Linked DNA regions of Homo sapiens. The protein of the gene in region 6 purifies or fractionates together with the protein of the main gene of each other region. This does not show direct contact. Each region holds a gene or a part of one and is shown on either strand. Other genes may lie near its edges.

What was found.
Region 1: the proteins of BTLA (region 6) and PCSK6 purify together in Homo sapiens (affinity purification with mass spectrometry; one large-scale study listed by BioGRID and IntAct). This does not show direct contact.
Region 2: the proteins of BTLA (region 6) and BMP1 purify together in Homo sapiens (affinity purification with mass spectrometry; one large-scale study listed by BioGRID and IntAct). This does not show direct contact.
Region 3: the proteins of BTLA (region 6) and BMP8B purify together in Homo sapiens (affinity purification with mass spectrometry; one large-scale study listed by BioGRID and IntAct). This does not show direct contact.
Region 4: the proteins of BTLA (region 6) and DHFR purify together in Homo sapiens (affinity purification with mass spectrometry; one large-scale study listed by BioGRID and IntAct). This does not show direct contact.
Region 5: the proteins of BTLA (region 6) and OAF purify together in Homo sapiens (affinity purification with mass spectrometry; one large-scale study listed by BioGRID and IntAct). This does not show direct contact.
Region 7: the proteins of BTLA (region 6) and METRNL purify together in Homo sapiens (affinity purification with mass spectrometry; one large-scale study listed by BioGRID and IntAct). This does not show direct contact.

What each region holds. Positions count from the first base shown.
Region 1 is NC_000015.10:101,392,208-101,395,707, forward strand, and holds part of PCSK6 (proprotein convertase subtilisin/kexin type 6 isoform PACE4-AI preproprotein), read right to left. Parts: intron 1,218-3,500; coding exon 1,005-1,217; intron 1-1,004. UniProt on the Homo sapiens protein: Serine endoprotease that processes various proproteins by cleavage at paired basic amino acids, recognizing the RXXX[KR]R consensus motif.
Region 2 is NC_000008.11:22,192,872-22,196,371, reverse strand, and holds part of BMP1 (bone morphogenetic protein 1 isoform 3 precursor), read right to left. Parts: intron 2,315-3,500; coding exon 2,198-2,314; intron 1,928-2,197; coding exon 1,782-1,927; intron 1,649-1,781; coding exon 1,453-1,648; intron 911-1,452; coding exon 785-910; intron 1-784. UniProt on the Homo sapiens protein: Metalloprotease that plays key roles in regulating the formation of the extracellular matrix (ECM) via processing of various precursor proteins into mature functional enzymes or structural proteins.
Region 3 is NC_000001.11:39,786,066-39,790,234, forward strand, and holds the start of BMP8B (bone morphogenetic protein 8B preproprotein), read right to left. Parts: upstream 2,801-4,169; 5' UTR 2,421-2,800; coding exon 2,087-2,420; intron 1-2,086.
Region 4 is NC_000005.10:80,634,484-80,637,983, reverse strand, and holds part of DHFR (dihydrofolate reductase), read left to right. Parts: coding exon 1-101; intron 102-3,500.
Region 5 is NC_000011.10:120,224,532-120,228,031, forward strand, and holds part of OAF (out at first protein homolog precursor), read left to right. Parts: intron 1-1,129; coding exon 1,130-1,264; intron 1,265-2,284; coding exon 2,285-2,465; intron 2,466-3,500.
Region 6 is NC_000003.12:112,496,673-112,500,647, forward strand, and holds the start of BTLA (B- and T-lymphocyte attenuator isoform 1 precursor), read right to left. Parts: upstream 2,801-3,975; 5' UTR 2,687-2,800; coding exon 2,599-2,686; intron 1-2,598. UniProt on the Homo sapiens protein: Inhibitory receptor on lymphocytes that negatively regulates antigen receptor signaling via PTPN6/SHP-1 and PTPN11/SHP-2. May interact in cis (on the same cell) or in trans (on other cells) with TNFRSF14.
Region 7 is NC_000017.11:83,086,109-83,089,608, reverse strand, and holds part of METRNL (meteorin-like protein isoform 1 precursor), read right to left. Parts: intron 1-3,500. UniProt on the Homo sapiens protein: Hormone induced following exercise or cold exposure that promotes energy expenditure. Induced either in the skeletal muscle after exercise or in adipose tissue following cold exposure and is present in the circulation.

The DNA.
Region 1 (3,500 bases), on a different chromosome or scaffold from region 6:
CAGGACACCATTCAGCATCTCAGCTGCCCGTCCCAGGGGTGCGTACTCCAGCAGAAAAGGAAAATAACAAATTAATACCTTAGTTAACCAGGCCGAGCTGCTACCAGGCTGGCGACAGAACGATGGCAGCTGACCTTTCACTGGTGCGGAGCAAAGCCGAGAACAGGAAGCCTGTATGCTCCCACAGAAAAGTGTAAAAATAAATTTGCAAATAACTTCGAAAGATGTGGCTGAGCAGCCGCAGAAATGAAAAGATGCTAGTGAGCTTTAAAATTTAACCATGTCTGGCCAGCTCCACAGTCTCATTTTTAAAATGTCTACAAGTCAACGTAATGACTTTGCACTTCAATTCTGCATTAATTTGAACTGGAAACCCTCCCTTCCTCTTTTTTTTTTTTTTTTTAAGTAGGAAAGTATGTAGGGAAGGAAAAAGCACAAATTCTACCTGAGTACTAAAACAGTTACCTTTTAAAAGACAAATCATGCTTATGTTCACTTAAGTAAGCGGAACAGACAGAAACCACTGCTCGACTTAAAGTGTCCAGAAAAAGTGCTTCTGTAGCAACAGAATGCCTAGAAGAACTCCTGGATTTCTAGAATGTCTCAGTATAAAACCAAGTCTTTCTCTTACTCTGTTGTACACGCTGGAACTGGATGGGTTCATTGGATTCCAAGACATGTGACCACAGAATTTCAGAGTTAAAACAAGACATCATGAGAAGGAACCTCGTTCTTAAATAATATTTTTAGATCTCTAAAGCCAGAGAGGGGTTTAACTGCTATTTCTGTGCAAAGATTAGAAAGCCAGTGTCCGAGGAAGGCTGCCAAGGGACTGGGGTTTACCTCCAGGCTCAAATTGTTCGCCGATGGGTGAGGCTGGGACCCTGGGATCCGGAACAATCTGGCCTCAATCTAAGCCATCTTTCTGAGAAAGGGAGAAGAAACTCATTCCCAGAGGGCTGAGGCACTCACTGTAAGCACTCCAACTTGCCAAGAGAACTTACGATTTTTCGCTCATAAAAGGCCCCACTGCTGTAGGTGGTGGCCAGGGTGGAGGCACACTCTTCCAGGTACCAGGGCTTGTAGCCATTCTCGGTGGCGCTGCTGACGGAGATGGTGTAGATGCTGTTGGTGTAGCCATCGCACGAGCAGTAGTCCCCCTCTCTCCCGCCATTCCCAGATGCCCAGACGAAAATGGAGCCCAGGCCCTGCCGGCCCTGGAGGGACAAGAGGAACAAGGCTTAGCCCCGCAGCAGAACCTCGTAGGGTGGGTCTCCCCCCGAACCTAGAGTCCCATCTCCCAAATGTTCCTTCAAAGGGATAAGAAGGTTGCATTCAGACCATCTGGATGCTGCTGAGAGCATGGTTTTGGGGGCTCTGTTTGGATTTTAATGGTGTGCCTTTGCCTGTAGCAGCAGCCTTAAAATTGCAGAATCACAGGATCATACGAGGGGAAGGGGCCAGAAAGACTCCTCTGTTCTTCACAGGAAAATCAAGGGTCCCAACACAAGCTGCTCTATTCCAGAGCCATGCCTGTCATTTCCATCGCAATGGCCTAGGATCAAAGAGAGCTAGCAGTGCTGCAAATGACACTGAGATTACAGATGATGGAAGAATTTACAACTTTAATTTTTCTGGGTTGAAAGAGCTGGTCTGGTGGGGAAAAGAATGATTTTTCTGGAAAACATACTTGAAGAGGTACCCTTCTTGCAGAGAGAGCTAAATTTGCAAAGAGGGATAGGACCATGAACTCTGCGTGAAGACAGAATAGGTGGAAAGGGTTACGTCCAGGAAGCTGGTAGCAGCTTGTGGGTGTCCTGTCAGAGCTCCCTGTGGTCTCTGCAGTGGGTAAGTATCAGGGTGGTCTGATTTATATCACTAGCCAAGGCCAGGGCCTCATTTGTGTGTAGGTTTTCTTTCCGTTTTTTTGTTTTTTGTTTTTTTTTTTTTGAGACAGGGGTCTTGCTACGTTACCCAGGCTGGTCTGGAACTCCCGGGCTCAGGTGATCCTCCTGCCTTAGCCTTCAGAGTAGCTGTGCCTATAGAAGTGTGCCGCCATGCCCAGCTGTGCACCGGTGTTCATTGTTAAGAACGTACACATGAAAGCAAGTCTTTGAAAGACAGCAGCCAGTCAGGGCAGATTCCTGCAGCTCCGCTCTATCCCATACCCACAGGATGGATGATTTCTGACCACACTGAGAATCATTCCAGCCACAAGTACCAGCTAAAGATTAGCGAGTGGAAGACTGAACTGACGGATATAGTCCAGATGGCTGGATGGGCTGGTGGTGCACAGCTGGCCCGAGAGAAGGGCCAGCATCCACCTCCACGGGAAACTGGAGCCACTGGCTGGCCATCACATCCTTACTAAGGACCGTCCTTCCCAAACAAACAGAGGAAATTTATACTTATGCTCAACAATCGGCCAATTTAAAGATAACTTACACACCAATTCTGCAATCCCCGTAGAGCCAAATTGAAGCCTGCTGCTGACCAAACATGTCACACTCACTTTTGGAGCACAATGAGTGGACCCGCCTGCTCTGTACGCTCACACCACGGGGGTTTGTAAACCAAGGAGACTCCAGCTCCAACTTGAGGCTCCCAAGAAAGCCCACAGGAAAGTTCTTGGAGCTCACGCAGCCCCGCTGCTTAAGGCTGCCGCGTCCACTCTGCTTTCTGCATCTGCAAGGTGAACCTGTCGGGGTGGCCAAGAGCTCAACAGAAAGGTCCCTCCCAGAAAAGCTAACCTTCTGAGAGAAAGGCACAAAGAGCTCAGGAAGGTGGTGTGTGTGTGCACGTGATTACCTGCAGGAAGAGATTCAGCTGAAGCCGGTTTAAAGCAACTACAATGCAAATCAAAAGGTATTTAACCCATCAGAGCCTGTCCTTATTCCAGGTGAGAATTAGTCCTAGACACTGCCACTCCTAACTCCCCACCCCACTTGAAATGACTTATAAAATGTTGTCCTTTTGCAAGGTGGAGCATGCAACCTTACTGCTCCAGGAGCAGAGAATGGCCAAAAACAGTGCTCCCCAAACTTGAATGTGCACACCCTGGAGTCACCTGGGAACCTGTTACAATGCAGACTTGTGCCCCAAAGTCCAGGGTGGGCCTGAGAGTGTGCATCCCTAATGAGCTCCCAGGGGACGCCAGTGCTGCTGGCTCTGGACCCCACTTTGAATACCAAGAGCCTGAAATGCTCAAGGTTTGCATTTACAGCATGTAGCATGCATTTACTATGAGACCAACCCATCCTCATAGGCATCAAGGTACCAACAACCTTTCCCCTCCTTAAAACGGTTTCTGGGAAGGAGACATGGAAATGAGGCGAGGAAACAGCCAGGTCTGAGGAGTGTAGAGATGTTTTAACTGTCTCTGACGACTTTATTTTCACTTCCCAGATCTTCCAGTGGCTTCATGGAAGCCATGGGACAGAAGCTGTAGGGGACATTTCAACCCTAGCCATGAACTTGCACTTCTTTTCAGTAAACTCACA
Region 2 (3,500 bases), on a different chromosome or scaffold from region 6:
AGCAGTTCAGGGAGGGGCGGTCCTGGGAGGTGCAGGAAAGGGAGCAGCTCGGGGGCACAGCAGGATCGGCCTAGTGAGCTGGAGCCATTAGCCTCGGAGTGCTGTCCCCAGCATCTCGGGACCATGCGTGGAGAGGCGGAAACAGTGTCTGTCCCACAACAGGGGTTTCCCAACCTGTAGATCATAACACCCTGGTGGGTGGTGATATCAGTTAGCAAGTCAAGATGGTCATTTACAAAAAAAACCCGAAAACACCCCAAGAATGAAAAAACAAAACAAACCCAAAGCCAGAATGCGGCCTACGGGGGGACAGTGTGTTCTCGGGGTTGCAATGTGACATGTGTTTCTTATCCATGAGCTATGAAAAGAGTGTTGGGGTATCCATCTAGCTTTTCCAAGAAGGGGTCTGTCCAAGGGCATAAGAAATCTTGGCAGTGACTCAAGCCTGTGATCCCAGCACTTTGGGAGGCCGAGGCAGGAGGAGTACTTGAGGCCAGGAGTTTGAGACAAGCCTCGGCAACAAAGTAAGACCTCATTGCTACAAAAAAAATTTTAAAATTAGCCAGGCAAGGTGATGTGCACCTGTAGTCCCAGCTACTTGGGAGGCTGAGGTGGGAGGATTGCTTGAGCCCAGGAATGGGAGGCTATGGTGAGCTAAGATTGAGCCACTGTACTTCCAGCCTGGGTGACAGAGCAAAAGCCTGTCTAAAAAAAAAAAAAATTCTGGGCAGGTGGGCTGGTGCCAGGGAAAGAACAGGGTCAGAGGCAGTCTGGGGGCACTCACCCTCACAGCGGCGCTTGTCTGGGGCCAGCTCGTACCCGGGGTCACAGCTGCACTTGTAGCTGCCCAGGGTGTTGAGGCACCGCTGCTCACAGCCCCCGCGGTTGGGCCGAGAGCACTCGTCCACCTCTGTGGTGGGAAGGAAAGGGTGTCACAGACTCCAGGCATTCAAGGGAAGAAGCTGGCTGTGAGCCTCACTTGTCCACTCAGCCCCAAGACCCACCCAGCTCCCCGATGGCTGGAACCCCACAGAGCCTTCCTTCAGAGCACATGGACTGGGCTGGTGTCTCTCACGTGCTGTTCCCTGACTAAGGACCCCTCTTTCATTTCTCCTTCAATCCTCATGTGAAGCCTGTGGCGGAGGGACTGTTACTGTGCCCATTTTACAGATGAGAAACTGAGGTTCAGGGAGAATATCCTGCCCAAGGTCACACAGGTAAAAAAAACCTCCAACTGCCTTTTTTCCTCCCTGAATCATACAGCAGGTCCTGCCTCTAATCCACATTGGGGGACCTCTTCTCCCCAGCTAGCCCAGAGCTCCTTAAGGGCACAGCCCTGGGGTCTCACTGGTATCAATATGCCTCCTGGAGTCTCCGTGTTGAATGAGTGAGTGAAGAAGGGATGAAGGTCACGAGGCACCTTGGGGCAGGGGAGAGTAACAGAGGAGGCACCTTTGAAAAAGTTGACGGCAAAGCCCGCTTTGTTAATGGACCCGTCAGAGACGAACTTGAGCCAGAGGCGGCTGGACGTGCTCTTGATGTCATCAGGCTTCTCATAGCCACAGTAGCGCCCGATGAGGGTGCTGCTCTCACTGTGCCCGTCGCGCACCTCCAGATAGTCGTAGGCACAGCTGTCGTGGCGCTCAATCTAGGGGTCGAGGCTTCATCAGTGGAAGGGGCTCTGGCTGCCAGAGACCCACCCCTGGGAGCCCAAAGAGAGGCAGCTGTCCCAGGGAGCAACTGCTGGATTCAAAGGTCAGATCACAGGGCCACTGACCTACCTCAAAGGACTGGAATGTGAGGCCCACGTGGAAGCCCTCAGACACCTGGATCCGCCAGATGCAGACTTTGCTGGGCCGGTAATCGTCTGGGTAGTTGGGCGATTGAATGTGGCCATAGTCCTTTTTCACATCACCCCCGCAGATGGCTGTGGGGACACAGGATGGGGTGGGAAGGGGTGGTGAGTCAGCATGCTTTGCCCTGCTAGGGAGCTCTTTTCCCCACTCCTCCAGTCCCTCCCATGTCCCCCAGCTTTTCAGTTCCCCACCAAACCCCCAGTCCCAGGCAATCCCATCATTCTCTCTGCTTCTTCCCTTGGGAACCCACAATCTTGCCCCTCAGGTGCCAGGAGGGAGTTGTTTTACCATGCCCAGAGACCTCCTATCTGACTCCTCCCGCCCGCCGCCTTCCTCAGTACCTTCGTAGACTGCAAAGAAGCCCTTTCCAACCCAATTGCTGCTGCTGCGGAATTCAACCCAGAGGCGGCTGTCAGTGGAGACGATAGGCTCAGGGAGTTTGGACCCGCAGAAGCGGCCTGCACAGACAGTGTGGATGGAAGAGTGGTGAACCCTGAGGACACCCCCTATAGAGGCCCCACCTCTCCAGGAGGCTTGGGTGCTTGGGCCCTGATCTGTGGCCACCCTACTTCACACATTCCCAAGACTGTATACCCTCTGGTTGGCTTCTGTCTGGTCCAAGGTCCAACTTGGCTTTGGAGAGCCAGAGACCACTTGAGGGATAGGATATGAGTCTATTTCTAGGAGGAAAGGTAGATCTTTATTTTTCATTTTATCTTATTTTATTTTTTTGAGATGGAGTCTCGCTCTGTCACCCAGGCTGGAGTGCAGTGGCACGCTCTTGGCTCACTGCAACCTCTGCCTCCTGGGTTCAAGCAATTCTCCTGCCTCAGCCTCCCAAGTAGCCGGGGCTACAGGCATCTGCCACCACACCCAGCTAATTTTCGTATTTTTAGTAGAGATGAGGTTTTGCCATGTTGGCCAGGCTGGTGTCGAACTCCTGACCTCAGGTGATCCACCCACCTTGGCCTCCCAGAGTTCTGGGATTTCAGGTGTGAGCCACCGTGCCTGGCCAAGGTAGATCTTTATAATGTCCAACTATATATGTGTTCTATTTACCTTTCTAAAGAGCATATTACCATCATTATTTACCTTTTCTTATTTGGTCTCTATGCAAAGAAGAGACCAAATAAGAAATAAAATCAGAAATATAATCAGAAATAAACATGGCTTTCTTTACACATTACAAACTGCCCTCACAGACATGTTTTTATTTGGTCAAATGCAAGGGATGCCCCAGGACCCTAAATAAATCACAGAATCTGGGGACTAGCTCACAAAATGTCCACTTTGAAATAAAAATGAATAAGAATCAACATAAGTGAATGAGGTCGGCCATCTGTGGAATTCTTTGTAGTCAAGAATCAACTAGGAATGAGTTGTGTGTTCCTAATAAGGCCGGTGTTTCCCAACATTCAGCAAGGGACAGAGGGTGCTGGCCCAGGAATGTAAGTTATGAAAAAGAAACTCCCATCTTGGAAAAACACTAACACGTCTACGAGAGGAAGTGTTGTAAGGACAGCTGCTTTGAGTGACCAAAAAGAAATATTTAAATATCGGAAACTGGGGGGAAAATAGAGGTTAGCAATATCCGTCTGGCTGTTTTAGGCATAGGCTGAGGAGAAGAGGTTCTGTTGCCAAAGA
Region 3 (4,169 bases), on a different chromosome or scaffold from region 6:
CCGGATGTGCGGTGTGGCCCTGGGCTGGCTATTTAACCTCTCTGAGCCCATGAAACAGGGCTGGCAAAACAGTCTCACATGAGTTAAATGAGGAATTGTAAGGCTGTGAAAGTTCACATGCTACTTTTCATTCTAAAAACAGGTACAAACACTTTTTGATTGGCTTTTAGAATCCATTTCTAGGTTTTACATGTGTATAAGACATGTGGAGATGTTCCTGTCACCTCCGAACTAGGCCACAGCTGGGAGGGCCTGGGGCCAACAGTGCCCAGGTCCAGGTTCACCCTCTGAGGGGAGCAGCACAGGCTTTCTACTCCTGCCCCTCTACCAATCACACAACAACCCTGAGGACAGATCACCAGGCACCTCATTTTACAAGGAGCAACGAAGGCTGAGAGGGTGAGGAACTTTCCTAAGGTCACACAGAGGGGTAGGCCCTGCCCAATTCATAGCAATAGCCCCACCAGGCTGTGCATGCCTTGACCCAGGGGATGCCAGGGGAGGTCGGATGTGGGCTGGGTGGTGACGCATTCTGATGGGCGGCTCCCTGGGGACATTCTTGGACGACTCCATCCACAACTCTTCTTGGTCCTGAGCCCAGTGTCAGCCTGTCCTGATGACAGAGCCCCAGCCCCAGCTTCACAGATGGTCTCCTCTGTCCCACATCCCCACCCTGTCCTCTAACTACAAAGGCAGCATCCAGATCCCACCGGCTAGAGTCCTGTCCCTGGCACTGGGCGCTCAGTGATGGTGAATGGCTGCCTCCTGCTGCTCGCCTCCACCACCAGCTCTGGGTTGCGGGAAGCAGAGGCTTGGCCATGCCCTCTTCTGTCCTAGTGTAGGAAGCAAATGGCTGATGGCCCCACAAAACCTGCTGCGGCTCAGTCCCCTGTTTTCCTCAGCCCAGACTCCTCAGAAAGGTCTCTGCACCTTGAAAGCCTGACCTGACAACAGAAATGTCATCTCTTTGAGCCCTGGATGGACAGTCAGGCTTCCTGGGCCTGTCCTGGCTCAGCAGCGTAGAGGCTGCGCTGTCCTAGGCATGGCGCTGCCTCTCTGAGCCTCACTGTCCTCATCTGGGAGATGGGGATGAAGACCGTGGCTGTTATCAGGGTTGTCGGGAGGATGAAGAATTAATGATGCTGTCTGTGGAGGGAGGCTGATGGCCGGGGCCAGGGACCCTCTCCCTCCTCTCAGCCCCACAGCTCCCCGACTTTGGGCTGATCTGTGGTCCTTGGTTCCCCAGACCCCAGACTGTCACTAGCCACAGACAGGAGGCAAAGCAGATGGGTGACCTGACCAATAGTAACTACATGACCATAGACCAAAGAGTTTAGTACTGGAAAAAAAATCTCTGAGATCTTAGGGAATAAATAGCTCCAGGGTTTGATACAAGATATTTGCAGACAGGAAAAGCCGGGCTTTGCCTGGGAGAACAAAGTGGGTCCAGCTGCCCACTGGACCATTCCACAGGACTGGACACTCACCCCATACCAGATCACATCCCAGGTGTTGGGCCCAGGGTGACAAGGCAACAGTCCCTGCCCCAGCGAGCTGAGTTTGCTCCTTCCCCAGCCGCCCCCCTGACAGCCGCACCCCACCCAGGCTCCGCACAGAGAAGAGCCTGCTGTGGACTCAGGGCACGCGACTCAGCTCTGGTCACTCCGATGTGACCACAGGTTTCCACGCTGAACTTTGTCCCTCTCCTCAGTACTGCCCTTATCACAGTGACAGCATCCCGGCCTCTGTTTACTCACCTGTCTCCCCAGGACCAGGCTGTCTTCCCGGGGCAGCCCAGGTGGGCAAAGACATCACCTGATTCTTACTCCTGGGTGTGTTTGGGGCAGGGTGAAGGCAGCGCCTGGGAGTCCACAGTCCCCCACACTCTGCTCCTGACCACCCCGCAGCCCAGGGGGCCCCCATGACCCTTAGACCTTCCCTAACCACGGCGGTCCCACTCCCCTGTGGTTCGCGTCCACCGTCTGTGACTCCCCGTTCGGCCAGGGCCCGGCACAGCCCGCGGATGCGCGCCCCTCCCCTGCAGCCAGCTTACTCCGAGGGTCCCCGCGCGGGCGGCCGCACTCACCCATGTTAACGAAGCTCATGACCAGGTCGGCGCGGCCCAGGCGCCGCTCCGCGGGCGCGCCGTCCTCGTCGTCGTCGCCGGCCATGGCGTGGTACAGGTCCAGCATGAAGAGCGGCGCGGACGCGGGCAGCCGGGAGGCGGCGGGTGGCGCGCGGGGCCGGGGCCGCCCAGGCAGCCCGAGCACCGCCAGGATCTCGCGCTGCACGTCCCGGCGCTCGCGCGCGCCCAGACGTCGCTGGGGACAGCCGGGCGGGGGTCGCAGGCCGGGGCCGCCCCCGCCCAGCGCGCATAGCGCCAGGCCCAGGAGCCAGAGCGGGCCGGGGAGCGCGGTCATGGCAGGCCGGGGGCGCTCAGCTGGGGCGCTCAGCGGGCGCGCATCGGCTCCGCGGCCGACCCAGGGCCTGGGGACGCCCCGACGGCAAGGAGGCTGGGCTCGGCGGGCGGCGGGCGGCGGGGCGGGGCGGGACGGGCGGCGACCGCGGCCTCAGCGCGGTCCCTGGAGCGCCCGCCGCGCGACACCTGTCCTGGCTCCTGGACGAGAGGACGCGGACGCCACCGCCTCGAGGCCGGGGCTACTCTGCGGACTGGGACTCTCGGCCAATCCGTCTGTCGCCGCCGTACCCGCCAGTCCGGCTGTGGCCGCGGTCCGAGCAGCGCAGGGGCGATGGGCGAGCTCCTGCAGCCACCCGCTTGGTGCGGTTCCCGCGAGTCCCTGCCCTGCCCTGCCCAGCGGTCCGCGTCGCCCGCCCCCACCCCGGGACTGACCAATGGGGGGGCGGGGGCGGGGCCTGGGAGCGGGGGCCACGCCTGCGAGGGGGCCCGGGGCTGCGGCCGGTGTCGCGGGTGGGGAGACCCCGAGGTGCTACCTGGGCGTGGCGGGTGGGCAGGCGGCCCGGGCGAGGGGCTCGCAGCCTGGGCGTCAGCGTGGTCATGGCCGTCGTGGCTTCCGCCGCGGGCCTCGGCGCAGAGATCCTAGGGCCGCGGCGCCCTTCCGGTCCCGCCAGTGGTGCCACCCGGCCGCCCCGCCGTCGCGTGCGCGGGTCGCCATGGCATGCTGCAGGCGCCTCCTTCCCGGCACCTGCTCAGCTGCTCCTCCCCGCGCCCCCACCTGGCTCCCGCGTGAGCCTGGGCAGCGCCCCAGGCAGGCCGCCCCCGCCAGCCCTCGCTGCGCGGCGTGCGCCCCCTGCGCCCCCAGTACTGATCCAGCTTCGCGGGGGAGACGCGCACCCGCCTCCTGCCTTTAGCCGGGCCAGGAGCTCTGGGGCCCTTCTGGAGCACCCGGGAGCCACCTGTGCACTTCTCAGTCGCCACGGCCCCGGTGCAGGCCTGGCAGGAGAAGGATCCCCGCGGAAATGCCTCTACTAACTCAGCCCCTTTCTGCACTCTCTGCTCTTCTCTGGGCGCGCTCTCGCCTTACTTATTCCTGTGTGGTTCAGGCGCTGCGGAAGGAGAAGGCACCTAGACTGTACTGGGAAGGCTCCTGGAGTTGACCTGGAGCGCCAGGAAAGGTCAGTGGAGGAAAGTGCTCCAAGCAGAGGGAAGAGCTTGTGCCAAGGCCCTGAGACCCCGGCGGGGGAGCCTAATAATGGCAGGTAACAGTCAGCACTTGCCACGCGCGAGGCATGTTCTCAGTGTGTGTCTTGTGTCATTTCTGTGATGCTTGCACATCGTCAGGGGGTACCTACCACTGGAACCTCCTCTTTTAACAAATGAGGAAACTGAGGCACACAGCGGTTAAGGGACTTACGCTAGGTCACACAGCAGTAGAGCTGGGCTGGGGCAGGGGGCAGCTCCTCAAGTGGAACCTGGAGAGCCCACGGGGCAAATGGCGGAGGCTGGAGGGGCTGGCAAGGGAGGGACTGCAAAGGGCCTCACAGGGGCTAGACGAGGGCCCTGGGCACCAGTGATTATGGTGCCCCCCCATGTGGATTGAAGATTAAACCTCGAAGCAAGTGTATAATGCCCCCAAAAATCACATTTAGAAGTCATCACTTCAATAAAAATTTCTATATTAAATAAATTATTAATGTAAATGGTCATTTGCTGGCTCCTTAAGCACATGCCTAGTCTGTCTTTTACCGAA
Region 4 (3,500 bases), on a different chromosome or scaffold from region 6:
TTTCCAGAAGTCTAGATGATGCCTTAAAACTTACTGAACAACCAGAATTAGCAAATAAAGTAGACATGGTCTGGATAGTTGGTGGCAGTTCTGTTTATAAGGTAAGTGTAGTTGTTGGTAAATAAAAACAAATGTTCTGTTCTACTTTCAGCTTCCTTGCCATTTAAAGGAAGTGGAAGAAACAGGTATAACTCATTGTCTGAACCTTTAAAAAATTAAGCCATGCGTATAGGAAGCAGCACATTATCTGTACTGTAAATTATTTGTTGTTAGTTGAAATTATTTGTTGTTTGATACTATACAAACTAAATAGAAATGCAAAAATAAATATTTTAGTCTGTATCAGCCTTTTTTATTTATTCATTTATTTTTGAGACAGGGTCTTGCTTTGTCACCCAGGCTAGTGTGCAGTGGCACTGTCTCACTGTAGCCTCGAGCTCCAAGGCCCAAGCAATCCTCCCACCTTTCCTCCCAAGTAGCTGGGATTATAGGCACACACCATCGTGCCCGGCTAATTTTTGTATATTTTGTAGAGTCAGGATTTTGCCATGTTGCCCAGGCCGGTCTTGAACTCCTGGGTTCAGGCAATTCACCTCCCAATGTGCTGGGATTACAGGTGTGAACCACCACACCCAGCCTATTTATCTTTTTAATTGGCAAATAATTGCATATATATATATATATATATATATATATATTATGTACAACATGTTGTTTTGAAATGTGTATACATTGTAGAATGGCTAAATGGAGCTAATTAACATGTATTACCCACTTATTTTGTGTGGTAAGAACACTTAAAGTCTACTCTCTTAGCAATTTTCAAGAATACATTTGTTATTAACTAAAATAATAGATGTTGTACAATAGATCTCTTGAACTTACTCCTCCTATGTAACTGAAATTTTGTATCCTGTGACCAACATCTCCCCAATACCAATCTACTTTCAAATCAAAGAATAATTGATGTTTCCAATTTAAAATCCATTCTAAATCTTTTCCTGAGAATTGTACTTGCATTGCACTGGTTTCTACTCCCTGAATGTACCCTAGATACACTGAGTTATGCCTTTGTCTTTCAGGATGAATATATCTCTTACTGAGAAAGGGTTGGGGCTCTCAGTTGATATACACTAACTAGATGTATATGAATTTATTACAAGTAGAAAACTTCTTCAACCAATTTTTTTTTGTTTTGTTTTTGTTTTTTTGAGATGGAGTCTCACTCTGTCAAGACTCAGTCGCCCAGGCTGGAGTGCAGTGACACGATCTTCGGCTCACTGCAAGCTCCACCTGCCAGATTGACGCCATTCTCCTGCCTCAGCCTCCTGAGTAGCTGGGACTACAGGCGCATGCCACCACACCTGGCTAATTTTTTTGTATTTTTAGTAGAGACGGGGTTTCACTGTGTTAGCCAGGATGGTCTCAATCTCCTGACCTGCTGATCCACGCACCTCGGCCTCCCAAAGTGTTGGGATTACAGGCGTGACCCACTGCGCCCGGCCAATATACCTCTTTTTTAATACCAAATGACTTCCAGCTTTAAAATTTTTGAGGATAACAAATAGAATTCTTTGCCTTTTAAAACACCAATGAAAAATTAACATTTATGAGGAGGAAGAAAAATCTAGTTTCTGCCATGTGGGTGGTCTTGTGGTAAGATATATACAGTGAAATTATTTTAGAAAGAAGAGGTAGGCCGACGCCTGTAATCCCAGCACTTTGGGAGGCCAAGGCGGGTGGATTGCTTGAGGTCAGGATCTAAAAACCAGCTGGGCCAAGATGGTGAAACTCCATCTCTCCTAAAAATACAAAAATTAGTTGTGTGTGGGCGCGGGCCCCTGTAGTCCCAGCTACTTGGGAGGCTGAGGTGGGAAAATCACTTGAACATGGGGGGCAGAGGTTGCAGTAAGCTGAGATCGTGCCACTGCACTCCAGCCTGGGTAACAGAGTGAGACTCTGTCTCAAAAAAAAAAAAAAAAAAAAAAAAAACTCTCAGTTTCTTGGGCTCCTGTTTCTAGAACCTCTTATGTTCCCCATTTGTAATAGAAGAAAAGGGACATTTTTTCTTGATATTTTTATCCAAGTATGAATTTCTTCTAAGAAAACAAGTTATTTATTTTGTTCAGTGCCTACCACACTTTGAATGATTCATTACCATAGTCACTTGAAAATGTATTCTTTAAGCAATATAAGTACGTAAATGCCTTTATATAATATGATAAATCTACATATAGATAAATAGGAAGTAGAACCTTCGAATGGTATTTTTACACCTGCCTCACATCACAACAGCTTGTAGATATCATTCAGGCTTATCTTCCTATGGGCCAAATCGGACCTCCCAGCCTGTTTTTGTAAAGAAAGTTTCAGTGGAACACAGACCCACCCATTCATTCAGTTCTGTCTGTGGCCTGCAAAGGTAGGAAACCCTATGGCCCTCAGAGCCTAAAATATTTACCATCACTCCTTTTACAGAAGGTTTGCCTTGTATAATCAACTTTTTTTTTCTTTTTTTTTGAGACGGAGTTTCGCTCTTTTTGCCCAGGCTGGAGCGCAATGGTGCAGTCTTGGCTCACCGCAACCTCCGCCTCCCGGGTTCAAGTGATTCTCCTGCCTCAGCCTCCCAAGTAGCTGGGATTACAGGCATGCGCCACCACGCCCAGCTAATTTTGTATTTTAAGTAGAGATGGAGTTTCTCCATGTTGGTCGGGCTGGTCTCAAACTCCTGACTTCAGGTGATCCACCTGCCTCGGCCTCCCAAAGTGCTGGGATTACAGACGTAAGCCACTGCAGCCGACTTATAATCAACTTTAATGCAGAACTTCACCACCACAGTCAATCTAATAATCCAGACAGCTCCTAAGTGACTAAGGGGCAGGTAACATAGACAGCATGTGCAGGACAAAGGGATAATTCACGCCCTAGGCAGGACAGAGCAGAATGGCTCAAGATTTCTTCACACTACTTAGAACAGCATGTCATTTAAATCTTATGAATTATTTCTGGAATTTTCCAGTTAATATTTTCAGACCACAGTTGACCATAGATAACAAACTGGAAAGTGAAACTGCAGATAAGGGGGGAGTCTGCATTCCACTTTTTAAATTTTTGGTACAGTAAGAATTAGTAGAGCATCTATTTGGTTGTAGCAAAGATAATAAATGATTTAATATAAAATGATATATTGAAAATAAAAAGTGAAATTTGTTCTGTACCCTTATTTGGAATTTTAAAAATAAACACTTGGATTTGTTGTGTGTGTGTGTGTGTGTGTGTATTTTTCTTTTCTATAAACTATTTGAGATCAAGAATTACTGCTTTGTTAGAATTGCAATTAAGACATACTTTTTATGAATGAGAATTTTAATACACTCATTCTAGGGCAACTTTTTCTGTAGAAATTATCAACCATATTTTAGGCAGTAGTTAGAAAAGTCATGTACAATATAAAGCCAAATGTTAATACAATTGTTAGCACCAAGAAGCAGAAAAATTAC
Region 5 (3,500 bases), on a different chromosome or scaffold from region 6:
GACTCCAAGGGGGCCACTCAGAGCCTGTTGCTGAGACACTTCTGTTCTCGCGGGTGTACAGCAAGTACTCAGTGACTGTGTGGTGGGGGGAGCTGGGGCCCGGGCATTAATAGATGATCCACAGAGCTGTCATTCTAAGTCTCAGTGCAGAGCCATAGGGGTTCCCAGCAGAGAATGGTCACTGAGGTCAGGGTGCCTCCACCACAGGAGGGGCCTTGACAGATGTAGACCACTTCTGACTGGGACCCACTAACTTCTCACTGGGAGCAGAGTTAATCAAGTCACAGAGATGGGTAAGAAGGCAAGGGGCCACTTCTCATGTGGTGAGCGGTACAGGTGAGCAGAGCACAGGGCTCCAGCAGCCGGATAGGGAAGGGGGCCCCAGCCCACCCTACAGCTCTACTCCCTCCATCCTGCTGCAGACCCCCCATTCACACAGTGAGTCAGTAACAGGAAGGAGCCCTTGGACTGCGGCAATGCCATTAGCGACCCCATGGGGGAAAGGGGAAGTGGGGAGGGAAAGGAAGAGGCGAGGCATCCTAGCTCCCTCAGGCCGGAAGGCTGCAACAGCTGCAGCCAGCCTCCCACTCTGCCCTCACCCCGTCCCGGCCCCACCACTCCACTCACTCAGTGGTCGGTGGCCAGGAGCCTGGCCAATCAGAAGCACCAAGGGCATCTTGAGACCTCTCCCCAGATCTACTGAATAAGAATGTCTAAGATTTCTAGCCATTACAACTACAAAGAAAAAAAAAAAAGAGGAACTCTGGAATCGGTACTGGAAAAGTCCAGCCCTCCTCCATGATGCCCTGATCAGGTGCCTGTAGAGGCCCTGACCCACCCTGATCAGGGTGACGTTAAGGGGTTCTGCCGAGAGGAATCATCAGCTGGGAAAAACTCTAGTGGTTCACTTTGTCAGTTTTCCAGGATCTTTGGAACATCTGGGGTGTGTTCTTTCTTTCAAGTCACGGGTTTAAACGGAAAAGATAAAAATTCCTAGACCAGCAGGAGGGAGGTGTCTGTTGCCCGGCAGTGTCCAGGCATCCTGTTCAGGGGCCAAGCTGAGCACCCGGTGGGCCAGTGGGAAGGTCCCACACCCTCCAGCCGTTCCCATCCTCCTGCCCTTCTTCAGGATGTGAAGGTCTTCCGGGCCCTGATCCTGGGGGAGCTGGAGAAGGGGCAGAGTCAGTTCCAGGCCCTCTGCTTTGTCACCCAGCTGCAGCACAATGAGATCATCCCCAGTGAGGCCATGGCCAAGCTCCGGCAGGTAAGTGCCCCACCAGGCCTGCCTGGCCCAGGTCCTGACCCGCAGCAGACCCGGCCCAGATCCCATCCCGCAGACCCGGCCCAGATCCTGACCTGCAGACCCGACCCCTGCAGCCAGCCTAGCTCTAAGCTCTGATTCCCCAACCTTAGCCTCCCACCCAGCTCCTCATCTTCACGCTGTTCCTGGACCCACTGCCCTTGACCTGCCCTCATCCCTGGTACCCCATTCACCCTAGAGTCCTGAGCCCCTGATTTTGCCCCAGGCCAAACCTGACCCTAGAGCTGCAGATCACTAACTGAACCCCAACTCTCAGATTTCTCCCATCTGGTTCCAGCACCTCCCCGTGTGTGACAGGCTAGGGGCTTGGGCTCTGAGGTCAGATCAGACATCACATCTCCTCCGTCACTCATTAGTTGGGTGACATTGGACAAGTTACCTTCAAAGCCACAATTTTCTCACTGAAACTGGGTTATGGGGGAATTCAGTGAGCAAACATATGTGAAGTGTTCAAGACCCTCAAAGCTGCCGGCCTGCTCCTGCTGTCTTCTTAGACCCAGGGCCTTGCCCCAGCCTCATCTGAGTTCCCTGGCCTGCCCAGCAGAGCCTGCCCTGGGGGCCTCCTCGCCCCTGCGCTTTGCCTGCTTTCCCAAAGGGACTTGGTTCCCTGGATGTTGGAAAGTACGTGATTCCAGAGGTCATATGCCCTGGCACAGCTTGCCTGGCCCACCCACCTCCACCTCCCATCCACACCTCAGCATTCTCCATCAAGCCCCAGAGGTCAGCCCAGTGGCCAGCACATAGTTTGGGAAGCATCCATTCTGGATAGAGGCTGAAAAGGCTCGACTGTACTCTAGGCATCAGCTTCACTGCCAGTTGGAGAGGGGTGGGGCTGCCACCCTGCAGATGGCCCCAGCGTTCTAAAGGCAGTCAGCTTGGGCTCGCCTGACTCTGGAGGGTCAGGGGAAGATGGACAGGGAGCATTCTGAAGCCAGGTAGGAGTGACTTCTCTCCCACACACAGAAAAATCCCCGGGCAGTGCGGCAGGCGGAGGAGGTTCGGGGTCTGGAGCATCTGCACATGGATGTCGCTGTCAACTTCAGCCAGGGGGCCCTGCTGAGCCCCCATCTCCACAACGTGTGTGCCGAGGCCGTGGATGCCATCTACACCCGCCAGGAGGATGTCCGGTTCTGGCTGGAGCAAGGTCAGCTGGGAGCTGGGCACTGCCCGCTGCTGGGCGGAGGGAAGGGGACAGGGAGACAGCACAGAGCAGTGGAGGAGGGCAGGGGCATCATTAGTTGAGTCTCATCATTAGCCAAGTCTCATCATTAGCCTTTCCTTTGTTCAGGAGACATTTACTGAACACCTACAGAGATGTACTGGCGCAGGAATCAGAGATGTAGACACTCAGTTCCTGTCCCCCAGCAGGGTAGATCTGCACAGAGTTAAGTGTGATAGAATACCATGATAGCTACAGGCGTTCAGGGAGGGACCCCCAAACCAGGCTACAGTTGGTCTGGGAAGGCTTCCTGGAGGAAATGGAGCCTGTGTGATTATTCAGCGAGAAGATTCAGCCAGAGGAAAGGGCCCTGCTCCAGGCAGGGCACACAGACTCTGCTAGGCCCTGTGGAGGGAGATTCCCAGGTACTTCCCCTTGTCCCTGCCCTTAGTGAGGACACAGAGATGGGGCCTTCTGTCATGGGTGTGGGGCACAAGGACACCCTGCCCCCCTCCACTGACACCTCTCAGATATCAGCTTCAGGCCCTCCCTGGTGCCAGCATCTCTGCCCCAAGATCCTTGGAAGCTCCTCTCCATACTGCATGGTCCCTGCCTTCCTGACCTCTGTGACTTCAGCGCTGACCCCTCTCTGGGTACCTTTTCCAGGACCGCCCTCAGGTCCCCTGTGTGGAGGGGAGAGGGAAATGGCGCCATTCCAACTCTGAGCCCCTGTGCCTTCTGCCAGCCAACTGAGCACTGGTGAAATGCCTGCTCCTCCCAGGGCAGGCCCAGATTTAGAAATACCCAACCAAGCTGTGGTCTTGCCCCCCACACACATACACCCTCCCCCATGGCCTGCACCCCAGACTATGCCGCAAGCTTGACATAAGTGTCCTCCAGAAGCTGGCCCCTCCCATACAGCCCCTGAGCCTAATCAGGCCGGTACCTTCCGTCTCCTCCAGCGCCCCAATATGCACACTTTCCCATTTGATCCAAGCCCTGGCCACCCTGACCTGACCT
Region 6 (3,975 bases):
TCTTAACCTATAGCTTTAATTTAATGCAACTGCTGCTGCAATCCATTATATCAACTGGTATATATCTGACCAGTACTTCACTCAAGTCTTTCCCTTTTTTTTTTGAGTGCAGTGGTGTGATCTCAGCTCACTGCAACCTCTGCCTCCTGGGTTCAAGCTATTCTCCTGTCTCGGCCTCCCGAGTAGCTGGGACTACAGGCACCTCCCAACACACCCAGCAAATTTTTATATTTTTAGTAGAGACGGGGTTTCACCATGTTGACCAGTCTGGTCTTAAACTCCTGACCTCAGGTGATCTGCCCGTCTTGGCTTCCCAAAGTGCTGAGACTAAAGGCTAGGGCCATGGCTCCCAGCCATATTTCATTTTCTGAATAATTTGATTCACTATATTTTGGGCTAAATATATTGCAAAATATATTGTACTTATTTATTTTATTTTTAACTTTAAAAACTCAACTATTTTAAATAATAATGTTAAAACATAATTCTCATTTAATTACATAGAGGTTGCATGGTGAAAATAATTTAGGAAAAATACCACTAACATTTACTGAGCTTTAAATACGTGCACTTACTATGCGAGGCACTTTACCCATATTATTGCATCTACAGTCTTCACAGCAGCCCCATAATTTAGGTACAATTATTACCTGTATTGTACAAATGAGGAAACTAAAGAGAAGAGAAGAGACTTAATCAATGCCATACAGTAAGTGGCAGAGCCAGTAAATTAACCCAGTTCTAACAGCCAAGTTCACTTTTGCAAATGCTAGGTTGCACATTGGGAGAAATAAAGGTCTTACCCCACCATCAATGTGGTTTAGCACTGAAACTCATTGTTCTTAATTTCATAGAGAGTAGTTTATGTATCCTTCAAATGGGGAAGAAATCTATTTAATAATATTTGACTCCAGTTGTAGCTATGTGACTGTAGGCATCTGATGGAAGGTGGAAAATTCAGTCAACCATCTAAGCACCTAGTTGACTTAATACTAGATACTTACAAACATAAAGATGTTTGAGTAACTAAGGACTTTTTTACTTTGCACTTGGTTGTGTGGCATCCTGGCATCATAGAGACATATTCCAAACTACACAGTTTAAAATTATAGATAGACTTTCCATAGAACCTCAGTGGCCAGATTTTCTAATTTAAAATTGCAGTAGCCAAACTGATAAATGTGTGCTTGTAGGGAATAATAAGACAGAATATTTAAAACCTGAAAAATCACTGGGCATGGTGGCTCATACCTGTAATCCTAGCACTTTGGGAGGCTGAGGCAGGTGGATCACTTGAGGTCAGGAGCTCCAGACCAGCCTGCCCAACATGCATTGCATCCATAGCTTGGCTGACTTTCTTAAAAAACAGGTTGATGGCAAGAAAAGAGAACTGAGTAGATGTTATAAATAGTTAAGTACAAATCTATCACTACTTCTTGCGAAAATGCTCAGGCTGCCACACTGATGATGAATAGATAGCTCGTTCTTCCCAAACTGAGTGCAGTAGAGTGTTGCAGTGCTCAGTTGGGTAGGACAGATGTTGGATAATTGGGGTTATCCAACATCTCTACTAAAAATACAAAAATTAGCTGTGCGTGGTGGAAGGTGCCTGTAATCCCAGCTACTAGGGACGCTGAGGCAGGAGAATAAATTGAACCCGGGAGGAAGAAGAATCGATTGAACCCGGGAGGCAGAGGATGCAGTGAGGCGGGATCACGCCATTGCACTCCAGCCTGGGTGACGAGAGCAAAACTCTTGTCTCAAAAAAATAAAAAAATAAAACCTGAAAAATCAGAAGCTTCTGATGAGCCACTCATAGGCTTTTCCTCTTGATAATATGTGGGTTCCTATGCAATATAAGGTAGGAAGCGACTTTACAATAAAAAAGAAATTGCCTTTTTTTTTTTTTTTTTTTTTTTGCCTGTATAAAGTCTTTGCAGGGGTGGCTAAATATCATCTTTGCAGAATCCAACTTATTTTCTGTGTTCAATTGACAACCAAGTAGGAACCATTCCCTTTCAACAAAATAGAAGCAATGACGAAAAGTTCTGCTCCTATATTTTGTAGCATTTTCTCAATCGGTATTCTCAAGGCATACATCCCAATGAAGCAAGTATAGAGATTTTATTTAGAGGTAATATTATTTGAGGGTAACCATGGAGATATGTATAATTCCGATTATCCAACAACTGTCCTACCCAACTGAGCACTGCAGCACTCTACTGCACTCAGTTTGGAAAGAACGAGCTATCTATTCATTATCAGTATGGCAGCCAGAGCATTTTTGCAAGAAGTAGTGATAGATTTGTACTTAACTATTTATAACATCTACTCAGTTCTCTTTTCCTACCATCAACATGTTTTTAAGAAAGTCAGCCAAGCTATTGATGCGATGCCTATGATTAGGCAGGTGAATACTATGTTCTAATTTGGTTTATGCTCTACGATGTCTTCGGTAAGCAAATGTAACAGCTTGGTTTCATCTACGATTACCCACTTCGTATAAACGTTACACCGTACTAAGTTCAGCAAGGGAGAATGTTGCCTCCAAGACCCCCTGAGAAATAAAACCAGAAATAACCTAAGCAGGTGCCTTACCATGGATGTTCCAGATGTCCAGATATGGGATTAAGAAGAAGACCCAAAATAATTTCCCAGTTCCAAGCATGGCAGGCAATGTCTTCATTTCCTGCACATATCAGTGATGGAAAAACTGCTCAAGTAGAAGGCTTTGCTTCGTCTTCTGAGTGCTGCAGAGTTGGGTCAGTTTACCTACCCCAGTGGCATCTGTGAAATAACTAAAAAAAAAAAAAAAAGAAGAGAGAGGTGGTAAGAGAGGAGAGTAGGAAGAGCCTGGATGATTTTGTGAAAAAAAGTGAACAGAAAGACGATGTGGTACTCTGTTCTGTGGTTTTTGCTTCTTGTCAGGTTGGCTGTTCACTTTCAAACACTGTGATCTGCAAAGCAGCTCAGTCCTTAACTTCTCCTTCCGCTCTACCACGTTTTTGCCCCAGGTTGAGGTTTTTCCTGCACTCAATGTTCAGTGAAATGAGCAATTAAACTTTAAAGAAATCTGTATTGTTGCAGTCTTTAAGTTGAGATTTTAATCAAATTAAGGTCAGGAAATTTATGGTAAAACTATCAATGGTAAGTATACATTTTCCCCTTTGTGATAGCTTGTGATTATGAAACTTCTTTTATGTAAAAGATTTTAGGTTTCTTTTTTTTCCTGTACATGTCACGGTAAGATGAGGATGCTTATTGTCATTAAACCAGTGAAGATTTATCTCAGGTTATGGAGAAAATGAGTGACAGGAAGCACTTCCTCAACAGAAGAAGGAAGAGCAGCCGTCTTTAATCTGTGGATACATATCAATGGAACAAGATCATCATTAATATTGGCTACATGTTCTCTCTAGATAATAAAGTTCTAATCTAAAGGAGATCTTGAATATCAATTAAAGGAAATTTCCATTTTAAACATTCTTCATGCAGTTGTTGTCTCGATGAAGTAGAATAGAAACAGTAAAGGAAGAAATGGAAAAGTTCAAGATCAGATAGCACAGGCCACCATAGGACTGTTTTCTCCACATCCACTTGTAATAATTAGCTTAGCTTATAGTCATAGGAGCTAATCAAATTCATCTGCCATTTGAGACTCCAAATGAGAGATCTAGATTTGTGGCATTAGTGATCATTGACAGAAGTCGATTATATAAGTTTTTTCCTCAGAGACTGATGATTTTATTCCAAGGCCAAACTTCAATAGTTTTAAGTTCAAGGAAAGTTTTAAGAGCAAGGAAAGTGTATAGATTGCTGGACATTTTGACCTGACATGGGAAACTGATGGGCAATACTTAATTCAGAGCTCCCAGTTGAGTTGCCAAGGGTAAATTAAAATTAAAAAACAGTTATCATGTATTTATTGAGTCAAATAGACAATGTGCTATGGTTGGAGATGAATGATGAATGAGT
Region 7 (3,500 bases), on a different chromosome or scaffold from region 6:
CGGAGGGGGAGGGCTGGGGTGTGGACATCTCAGGCAGGTCTCTCAGGAGCTAGCATGAACAGGGTGGGAGGGACCGGCAGGGTGGGGTTGGGGACGCTGCTGCGGGGACTTAGATTGCACGGCAGGTGTTAAGTAGAGAGGCAGGACCGGCTGGTTCCGAGGAGAGGCTGAGAATGACAGACACCGACCGGTCCGGCAGGACTGCCCAGGTAAGGACAGCCAGAGGGACTCACACAGTTCCGACGGGAAACCTCTGTGGCCACGATTACTGGGTCTCCCACACAGGTGGTGACGGGGTAGCGGGGGGACACGCTGCTTTTAGAGGAGCCGGTGACGGGGATAAGGTGCTTTCAGAGGAGCCAAGAACAGGGAGCAGTGGGTAGGGGTGGAGGGTGGGCTCCAGTGGGCTCGAGGACCCAAGGCTGAGCTCCCAAGGCTCCCCTCAAGGCCACCATCATCACCGTCGCGCTGCGGCCGCACTCCAGGCTGCAGTCCATTGCTGGGGTGCCCCGGGGGTGTTGGCCCCATAGCCCCTGCCCTTCCCCCTGCCTCCCTTTCTCCCTCCCTCTTCCTGGTGAGGAAGCTGGCGGGGGCCACACCCTTCCTCTCCACAAGCCCAGAGATGGTTAAAATGAAAATTACAGTGGCCGGAGAGAAGGCACCAAGCAGGAAGCCAAAGATGGACGAGAGATGGGACGCCTTGGAAAAATCAGCCCCTCTCCTCTACTTCCAGGAAATAATGAGAATTATCTTCCACACTTTTCCACCCATCCCTCCCACCCATCAAGGACTTCTCCAAACTCTGAGGCTCCTGGAGGGGGCTCATCGGCAGGGGCTCTGCGCCCGCCGAGCTGGTCATTCACCTACGGGCTCAGCCAGGGGCAGGATTTTAAAGGGGGGAGGCGTTGAGGCCCCTGAGACGCTGCAGGACTCCGGCGTCCTGGAGAGCCAGGGACGGCACCACGTGCTCATGATCAGCATCAAGGCAGCATCCCCTCCCCTCCCACTGCCTGTGTCCACGATGCTGCTGCCCGGCCCTGGGCACCTGCTCACTGGGGCCTGCATTGGGGGGCCTTACACAGAGCCTGCACCCCAAACCCCAAGCACAGATGTGGCCAAGCCAGGAGCATCTGACACACAGCCCTGGGAGAAGCTGAAGAACAGACTGGAATCCTGGGACCTGCCTGGACTGTCTCGGGTCTGTGTACCCCAGAACCAGACAGCCCCCACCCACATTCCCCAAGCCACTGAACGGTGCCCGTTTCCCGGATTCCCTGGCCTGCAAACAGCAGCCCCACACGGCCTCAGCCAGGTCTGCTGGGCACAGGTCTGGGCACGGCCGGAAGCTGCACCTGACCACTCTCTGCCACCCCCATCCTGCGGGGTTTCCTCAGCATCCAAGGAAGGCGTCCGTGTCGCCTGCAGAGGCGGCTGGTGCAGGGCTGAGAGGTCCTGCCCGTAGTCAGCCAAATCCCAAGGTCCTGGGGCCGGGTCCCCTCCCGCCTGGCCCCCAGTGTGTACCCCTGGAGGAGCAGCCTGCCCCCGTGTTCCGGCCAACTCTTGGTCATCGGCGTGTCTCAGTTTACTCAAGGAAGCCGATTATGCAGCATGAACGCACCACGATCACACCAACGAAACCCACCGGAGCGGGGGATTTCCTCCTGGCTGGGCAGGGGACGGGGCTCACACACCCTCTCCTGTCCGGGGTTCCAGCCCACGGAGCCTCTGTCCTCCTGAGTCAGCACAAACTGGAACTTCTGACACACAGACGAGCTCGTCCACCTCCCGTGGGTCGTGCTGCCAGGCCAAAGGCTCAGGCTCACCTCAGGCTCGGCGGGGCTGGCGCTGCCCGGCTCAGCCTCCGTCGGCTCTCGCAGCTACAGCAAGTGCAGGAACGGGAGGCAAGGGAAACCGCGGCGCTGGCCGGAGAGTGCTGGGGAGCCGGCCTGGCCCAGGGGATGGCGTCACTGCTGCCAGACGGCCGGCACCGACATTCCACATTATGTACCCATTCCTGCAGCATTAAAGGCTTAGGGGCCCCCGTCCCCTGATGAAAGGCGAATACCCTGGGGAGAGGAGAGGTATCAGCCTCCTCGGATCCCTCCTGCCCCTCCACCCCATCAGGATAGGAGAGGCCTCTCGTGAGGGCCCTGGAGGTGCTCAGCCCAGGGAGGGGCCTGCATCTGTGCCCGTTCCCGTGAGATGCCAGGCGTGGGTCCCAGCTCCGGGGGCCCCCGGTGAACCTCAGAGTCTGGGCCCCTGTCAGTTCCGAGGATCCCTGCATGTCTGCTTCCTCGGATAAGCAACCCACCACCCACAGGGCACTGGAAATCACCTCAGGCTCGGTTTAAGCAGATGCCGCAGGGTCACCAAGTGTAAACAAGGAAACCCAAGCACCTGCCTCACAGGACACAGCAAAGTTCTGGGACCCCAAGCCAGCCTGACGTGTACTGGGGCCACAGACCTGCGCAGGACCCCACAGGCCCAGGAGGCACACGGAGGGTGAGCGAGGACCCACCGCCGAATGCCTGCTCTGGTCCCTTGGGGCTCAAGTCACTCCTCACAAGAGGCCGCTGCCTCCCTGCAACCCCACAGGACCCCAAGGCAGCTCAGCCCCTACCATCCCATGCCTCTCCCAAACCCACCCACCGCCCCAGCCTACACAGGGCCTGTAGGCCTCGGACCCCACCCCCAGAGGCAGGAGAGACAAAGTCTCTGTTCCCAAAGGTGAGGGCACAGGCTCCGTAAGGGTCGCCCCAGCTGACAACTAGAACCATTGAATTTCCCCTGGAAATGTAGAAATCGGGCCTGTGCCAGTGTGGACGTCCAGGTGTGCGTGGCAGGGACGGACTACACCACAGCCTCTCTAAGAATCTCACCCAGAAGCAGAACAAAGCTCAGGCCACAGAGCATGTGACCCGCAGCCCAACGTCTTCAAGACCAATCACCACTTTAATCAGCAGAAAGAATGTTTGCAAGTTCCTAACATCTGGCCCGGCACCTTCTACCTCCGGTTAGAAAGACTGAACTTGGAGCTTGGATTTCTCCAGGTTTCGCCTCATTGTGAGTTTTTCTCCAGGGCCCCCAGAGCAAGGCTGGTACCCCCTCCCCCAGGTCTCCCACCCACCATAACTGTTGGTGACCAAGATAAAGGCCGCCGTGGTTAAAGTTTTATCCAGCGTGCAACCAACCACAGCACAGCTGAGTTTACATCAGCGTCCAGCCCTGCGGGTGCTGAGGCCCAAGGGGCAGTCTGAGCTCATGGGCCAGCTGGGACTCGGGGCAGTCAGGACTCCAGGCAGACGGTCCTACACTCACTCTGTAAATGACCAGTCTACCTGGGAGAGATTTCAGAGAGAGATGAAAAGTAATCTAGGCCAAGAACATAGAACACAAAAATGTGGATTCCCATTCAGGATAGAAGTCTGTACACCCGAGTCCGAGGCCACACAGACCATGGAGGTCACACGGCCCACAGGTGCCTCCCAGGACCTCATGCC